2 linked regions of the Homo sapiens genome follow. The protein of the gene in region 1 interacts with the protein of each later gene in a pairwise test. Each region holds a gene or a part of one and is shown in the gene's direction. Other genes may lie near its edges. The genes, in order: MAP3K13 and GLO1.

What was found.
Region 2: the proteins of MAP3K13 (region 1) and GLO1 interact in a two-hybrid assay, tested with the Homo sapiens proteins (one large-scale study listed by BioGRID and IntAct).

What each region holds. Positions count from the first base shown.
Region 1 is NC_000003.12:185,442,887-185,446,716, forward strand, and holds part of MAP3K13 (mitogen-activated protein kinase kinase kinase 13), read left to right. Parts: intron 1-558; coding exon 559-750; intron 751-3,830. UniProt on the Homo sapiens protein: Activates the JUN N-terminal pathway through activation of the MAP kinase kinase MAP2K7. Acts synergistically with PRDX3 to regulate the activation of NF-kappa-B in the cytosol.
Region 2 is NC_000006.12:38,689,592-38,693,421, reverse strand, and holds part of GLO1 (lactoylglutathione lyase), read left to right. Parts: intron 1-3,830. UniProt on the Homo sapiens protein: Catalyzes the conversion of hemimercaptal, formed from methylglyoxal and glutathione, to S-lactoylglutathione. Involved in the regulation of TNF-induced transcriptional activity of NF-kappa-B. Required for normal osteoclastogenesis.

The sequences.
Region 1 (3,830 bases):
TAGAGTGCAGTGGTGCAATCTCGGCTCACTGCAACCTCCACCTCCCGGGTTCAAGCAGTTCTCTGCCTCAGTCTCCTGAGTAGCTGGGACTACAGGCGCGCGCCACCATGCCCAGCTAATTTTTTTGTATGTTTAGTAGAGACAGGGTTTCACCATCTTGGCCAGGCTGGTCTTGAACTCCTGACCCTGTGATCCACCCGCCTTGGCCTCCCAAATTATTCTTAATGATCTAAAACAACACAGTATCCAGCCTGCACAAACTTCAGAAAAGTGTGCTCTTTGTCCCGGAATGGAAGGGTCCCACAGAAAAGGCACCAGACACAGCACAGCATATAGATAGCCAGAGTGAACAAAACAAACAAAAATTGTCTATGTGCATCATAGAGAAACCTGTAGACTAGAGAAGTTTCCATGCTAATTTGAGAATCAGGAACTATTATCTATACACATTTTTAAAATAATTCGGGTATAGAATTGGTTTTTATTAAATATTCTTTAAATATACATATGTATACTTGTATGTGTGTATTGATGTACATGTTTATGTTTTCTTGGAAGGGGTGTTTGTACTCAGGCCCCATGTTATTGTATTATCATGGAATACTGTGCCCATGGACAACTCTACGAGGTCTTACGAGCTGGCAGGAAGATCACACCTCGATTGCTAGTAGACTGGTCCACAGGAATTGCAAGTGGAATGAATTATTTGCACCTCCATAAAATTATTCATCGTGATCTCAAATCACCTAAGTGAGTTCTGGGGCTAATGTTTCAGCTATTTTGGTTTGTTGTTTTGAAATACAGAATTTTTATCAACCTCAGTTGACGTTTTCAGACATCATACCTTTAGTTCAGTTTCAATCAGCACAGTGGGTAATTCTGTTTGCGCATCTCTTGGGTTATTGTTGACCTACCTGGTTACCTGTAGGGCAGATACGTCCAGGTATCTGAAACCACTTTTCCTTTTTGGTGCTTTTAAATCATACAACTGTGAAACAAAATTCATTATTATCTGAAGTATTCACCTTCTGTCATCTCAGATAGCTAATGCCAGACCTTCCCGCTAGAAGGCTTGATTTGTTGTTTTCCATGTGTTCAAAAAACTTTTTAAACTGAGTTTCAGAAATGTATACAACAGGATAAAATGGATAAATAAGAAACAGGCTAGCTGGGTGGAGTGGCTCACGCCTGTAATCCTAGAACTTTGGGAGGCCAAGGTGGGTGGATCACTTGAGATCAGGAGTTTGAGACCAGCCTGACCAACGTGGTGAAACCCTGTCTCTACTAAAAATACAAAAAATCAGCCAGGCATGGTAGCAGGTGCCTGTAGTCCCGGCTACTTGGGAGGCTGAGGCAGAAGAATTGCTTGAACCTAGGAGGAGGAGGTTGCAGTGAGCTGAAATCACACCACTGTACTCCAGCCTGGGTGACAGAGCAAGACTCTGTCTCAAAAAAAAAATAATAAAAATAAATAAATAATAAAAATAAAAAGAAGCAGAGGCAAAGGAAAAGTAAAAACATTAGAACTAAAAATTGTTCACAAATTATATGCCGTAAGATTCTGTAGACGTGGATTACAGATTTGGCTTTGAGCTTCTAGTGTCTAAGCAAAGGAGGAAATAAACAATTACAAGGTTCACAATGGCCATAGGAAAAATAAACACTGGCTATGTAAGAGAAGCAGGGCTATTTCTAGTAATCTCTGTTTTCAAAATGATTTCTTGGCTACCAATCACTTTAAGAGGAGTGTGTAGTTAGTTCCCCAAATTGAATGAAGAAAGAAATTGATAAAATGATTTATTTCAGTATAACTCCTATTTTTAAACATTATTTTTATTATTTATCATCACATTTTGGGTTAGATAAGCAAAGGATTAATCTCTTTTCAAAATATATTTGTAGCCTGGGCAATATAGTGAAAACCCATCTCTACAAAAAATTTAAAAATTAGCCAGGCATGGTAGTATGAGCCTATAGTTCAAGCTACTCAGGAGGCTGAGGTGGGAGAATCACTTAAGCCCAGAAGGTCAAGCCTACAGTAAGCCATGATCACACCACTGCACTCCAGCCTGGACCACAGAGCACAACCCTGTCTCAAAAAATAATAAAAATTTAAAAAAACTATATATTTATTGTATATACACACACACATATATATATTTGCATAGTGTTTTCATGGTTTATAATATCTTAGGGGGAATCCATTATCACATCTTTGATCCTGGCAAAAACTGTGTGGGATACGTAACAAGTATTGTTATTTTATGTAAGGAAAACTAGAGATTAGCCCAAAGTCATGGGGCTAGGACTCGAACCTAGAATTTCTGAACCAAAGGTTACTGCATTCTACCTCATTATGTGAAGGTAGGGGACTCACAATGAATCCTGCCTTTCCTCCATGGACGGTATAAATCAATCCTTCATTATAAACTTCAAAACAGCTCTTATTTATCACCATCATTCTCAGCAATATTTATTACAGTGCTTAGTTGACTGAACAACCTCCTCCTTGCTTTACTTGCAAGTAAACATGATTGTGTAGTGTTCATTTCTTCCGTTCACATTCTTACCCTGTTGCTTTTGCCATCCAGTGCATACATGTAAAGGACATGAACTACCTGAAGGCCTCTCTGAATGGTCTCCTTTTTAACCAACTTGTTCTCCTTATGAATTAATCTTAGAGGGAAGGAGTCAGGAAGCCGTAGAATAGAGTAGTAATTGGGTTACCCAGTAAGCCTTTCCCTCTATTAGCAATAACACTCCCAACCCCAGCAGCGTTGGCTTCTTTAGGTTTCAAGCTGACTTTGGGAAGACAGAGATCAATCTGACTTGCTGTAACAAGAGATCTCATTACTTACATTAAATCTGCAGGCTCTGTGACCACAACTTTGTCTCAGAGAAGATTTCAGAAAAATTCTAATGTTATATTTTTCTAGTCTCCTCTCAAGTCCATCCTCTCTTGTCACACCAACAGAGGCAGAGAGGAAGTTCCCATAAAAAGTTCCCTCTTTTAGGGGCTTACTGCCTACTCTCACTTTCCTGGTGTATGATATCAATTCTCCAATTCTCTCATATATCCCATAATATTTTAATCCTTATGCATTTTCACTAAGACTAACACTGTTAAATCAAAACTCCTAAGTTATATAAATTTTACATATTACGTGCAAAACCAGGGCATGGAGGATGGTATTCAAAAGCAATTGTAAGCTCTGAGCTATTTGGTAAATAGCCATTGGTGTTGGGGTTGTGAGCATGGTAAATGTGAAGGAATCCCTGGTTCAAATGGAGAAGCAAGGGGATAGAGTCAGATGCTTTCTGCCTTACAGCCTCCTCAATTCTGATACTATTTGAGGATGAAGCCTCTTATCATTTTTTTTTTTTTTTGAGATGGGGTCTCGCTCTGTCGCCCAGGCTGTAGTGCAGTGGCACAATCTCCACTCACTGCAAGCTCCGCCTCCCGGGTTCACGCCATTCTCCTGCCTCAGCCTCCCGAGTGGCTGGGACTACAAGCGCCCGCCACCACGCTCGTAAGCCTCTCATCATTAAACATAGGTCCCTAGATCATTAAAGCCTCTGAAACCCTAAGTCTTTAATTTTCTAAAGTTCTGAACAGGTTATTGCAAGTGAATTCGATCTAATGTGAAGCTGTCAATTTGGTACCGGATTGTATTCATCTTCAAGGCTGGCAGAGAGCACTTTGCCTCAGGCCACATTTTCAGATAACTACTATGACAAGTAAAACAGGACTGGTGTGGAATTTACTTAAGCTTGGATTTATTTCTGCTTTTCCTTATCAGCACTAGTGAAATCCCAGCATATATATTAGC
Region 2 (3,830 bases), on another chromosome or scaffold:
AAGACCAGTAGAATAGACAAACCTGTAGCAAGACTGACAATGAAAACAAAGAAGCACAAACTACCAATATCAGGAATGAAATAGGGGATACACTACAGACCTTTCTGACATAAGAAAGATAAGGGAATACTAAAAACAACTTTGTATACATAAATTTGACAACTTGAATTGGACCAATTCCTCATCCAATATGAACTAATATGATGAGTCCTATAACTTAAGGCAATTGAATTTATGATTAACAAACTTCCAAAGAAGATTTGTCCAGACCCAGGTGATTTCACTGGAGAATTCTGCCAAATGTAAAAGAAGAATTAACATCAATTATACACAACCCCTTCCAGAAAACTGAAGACGGGAGAACACTTCCCAATTCATTTGATAAAGCTAATATTACCCTGATACCAAAAACAAATGAAGACAGTACAAGAAAACTACAGACCAATATCTCCAATGAATATAAATGTAAAAACCCTTGACAAAATGTTAGTAAACAGAATTCAACAGTATATATAGAAAGAATTATACACCTTAACCAAGTGAGGTTTATATCTAGGATGCAAGCCTGGTTCAGTATACAAAAATCAGTCAGTATAATCCACCATATTAAGAGGGTAAAGAAGAATCACATGATCATATCAGTTGGTACAGAAAAGGCATTTGACAAAATTCAACACTCATTCATTATTTTTTTTAAGTTCAGAAAAAAATAGGAATGGGGGCATTTCTTTAACTTGATAAAGAGCTTCTCTTGAAAAGTTAGAGCTAATATTACACTCAGTGGTGATGCTTTCTCCCTAATTTTGGTAATAAGACAAGGATGTCTGCTGTTACCACTCTTATTTGACAAAGTGCTGAAAGTTCTAGACAGTGCAGTAAAGCAAGAAAAGGAAATAAGAGACATATAGGTTGGAAAGGAAGAAATCAAACTGTCCTTATTTGAAGATGACATGATTGTCTACATAGGGAATAATAAGTAATTTACAGAAAACTCCCAGAATTCATAAATGAGTTCAGCAAGGTTGCAGGGTACAAAATAAACATACAGAAATCAATCGCGTTTCTATATACTAGCAAAGAACACACAGGCACCAAAAATTAAAAAATACATTACCATTTACAATTGCCCAATAAAATGAAATACTTAGATATAAATCTAATAAACATTTACAGGACACATATGCTGAAAACAGCAATGGCGATGCAAAAAGTCATAGATCTAAATAAATGGAGAGATTTATTGTGTTCATGATTGGAAGACTCAGCACAGTAAGGATATCAATTCTCCCCAAATCAATATACATGTTTAACACACTCCTTATCAAACTTTTTTAGACAGAGACAGGGTTATTCTAGATTGAAAGGCAAAAAAACTAGAATAACAAACCATTTTGGAAAAGAATAAAGTGGGAAGAATTTTTCTACCTGATTTTAAGACTTACATAGCTACAGTAATCACTACTCTGTGGTATTGGCAGAGAGATAGAACATTGAAACAAAATAGAGAACCCCAAAATATACCCACACTAGTATGCCCAACAGCTTTTTGACAAAGATGAAAAAGCAGTTCACCAGAGGGAGGATAGCCTCAACAAATGGTGCTGAAGCAATTGGACATCCTTAGGTTAAAAATGAAGCTCTACTCAATTCTCATCCCTTATACCAAAAAAAAAAAAATCCATTTACTGGTGCTTAAAGGGGCCTTAATCCTTTGGTTCACATCCTTGCCTCACTTTTACAGTTTTGTAAGGATTGTATTGTAGGCAGGTAGGACATGCACTAGAAACATCCTTGATTGTACCTTTAAAGTTTTCTTGGCGGTTGCGGTGGCTCACACCTGTAATCCCAGCACTTTGGGAGGTCAAGGCGGGTGGACCACAAGTTCAGGAGTTTGAGATCAGCCTGGCCAATGTGGTGAAACCCTTTCTCTACTAAAAATATAAAAATTAGCTGGGCGTGGTGGCTGGTGCCTGTAGTCCCAGCTACTCAGGAGGCTGAGGCAGGAGAATCGCTTGAAGCTCGGGAGGCGGAGCTTGCAGTGAGCCAAGATTGCGCCACTGCACTCCAGCCTGGGTGACAGAGCGAGACTCCATCTTAAAAAAAAAAAAAGTTTTCTTACAGTAGTTTTCTTAATTAAATTTGGAGAATGACACTTCCCCTCCCCCCGAAAAAAACCTTATTATTTCTATTGTCCACCTTTTGATAAGGCACAGGAGCAAATCTTTGTCACCCAGTAGCCATCCCTGTAAAACCAAAGATAGTTTAGGCATAAAAGACACCTTATTTTTATTGTTCTAAATTTAAAGCATGATAAGGGAAAGACAAAATTAAGGACTATCAGGTGAGACAAGACATGAGCATAGCATAAGTCTTACTTTTTAAAACAGGAGATACATGTATTTTAAACGATATTTTAGAACCATACCAATAAAGCAATAATTTTTAGGAACTTAACTTTTTAAAACAGGAACTTTTTCTCAAGATCATGCAAGTGTTCACAAGAGGCACATGGAGTTAACAGACTATTTTGGTGATAAAAATAAAACTGTTATCTGAGCATAGAATAACTTGATCATTTTCTTAAAAATAAGCCCTTCTTGTTTTTATATCCATTTAACAATTTGTAGCAAAGGATTTATAAGCCTCTATTTTATCAATAAATTCACTAACGTTGAATATATCTTACTTTTTTTGCCACGTATAGACTTTTTAAAGTGAATTTTAATATTCTTTATGTGTATGTGTTTAGGCAGATACAGTACATAGTTCTCTTAATAATAAAGTTAAAGTCTGTAACATTAATTTTAAGATATAATTAATCTCAATAGCATATTAAGTGGTATTTGTTTTCATATGCATGTGTGTGTGTATATATATATAATGTTTTTAAAAGCTAATATACCATTTTATATATTCCCATGCCATTAGACTTAGTATACCATCTGTATATATCTCCATGCCATTTAATATACCTCGACGCAGCATTTTAAATGTTTTTCATAATATTCTTTTATGCCTGTGTCATACTATCTAACTATTCCTTTGTTAGAGGCAGTTAGTGGTTTAAAAGCAAGGACTTTGGAATCAGATTGCTTGGGCCAGAATTTTTTCTCTGCCACTTACTTTCTCAGCAGTAAAATGGGGATGATAATAATATGTATCTCATGGGCTTGTTGTGAAGATTACATGTATTAGTTTCTTTGAATCTCTTAGAACAGCATCTGGCACATAGTTATTGTGTAAGTGTTGTGATGGATGCCTTTGTACATAAATCTTTGTCAGAGTAATTATTTCCTTAGAATTTTAGAAAGAGAACATCTTGGTCAAAGAATATGAATTCTTAGGCCAAGGCAGGCGGATCACGAGGTCAAGAGATCGAGACCATCCTGGCCAACATGGTGAAACTCTGTCTCTACTAAAAATACAAAAATTAGCCGGGCTGGGTGGCGGGCGCCTGTAGTCCCAGCTACTCGGGAGGCTGAGGCAGGAGAATCGCTTGAACCCGGGAGGCGGGTTGCAGTGAGCCAAGATCTCACTGCTGCACTCTAGCCTGGAAACAGAGGGAGACTCTATCTCAAAAAAAAAGAAAAGAATATTAATTCGTGCACCACCACTACTGGCTGATTTTTTGTATTTTTAGTAGAGACGGGGTTTCACCATGTTGATCAGTCTGTTTCTCGAGCTCCTGACCTCGTGATCCGCCCGTCTCAGCCCCCCAAAGTGCTGGGATTACAGGCGTGAGCCACTGCACCTGGCCAAGAATATGAATTCTTGAGGACTCTTGATATTCCAGTTGTTTTCCAGAAAGATTGTAAGATAAGGATATGATA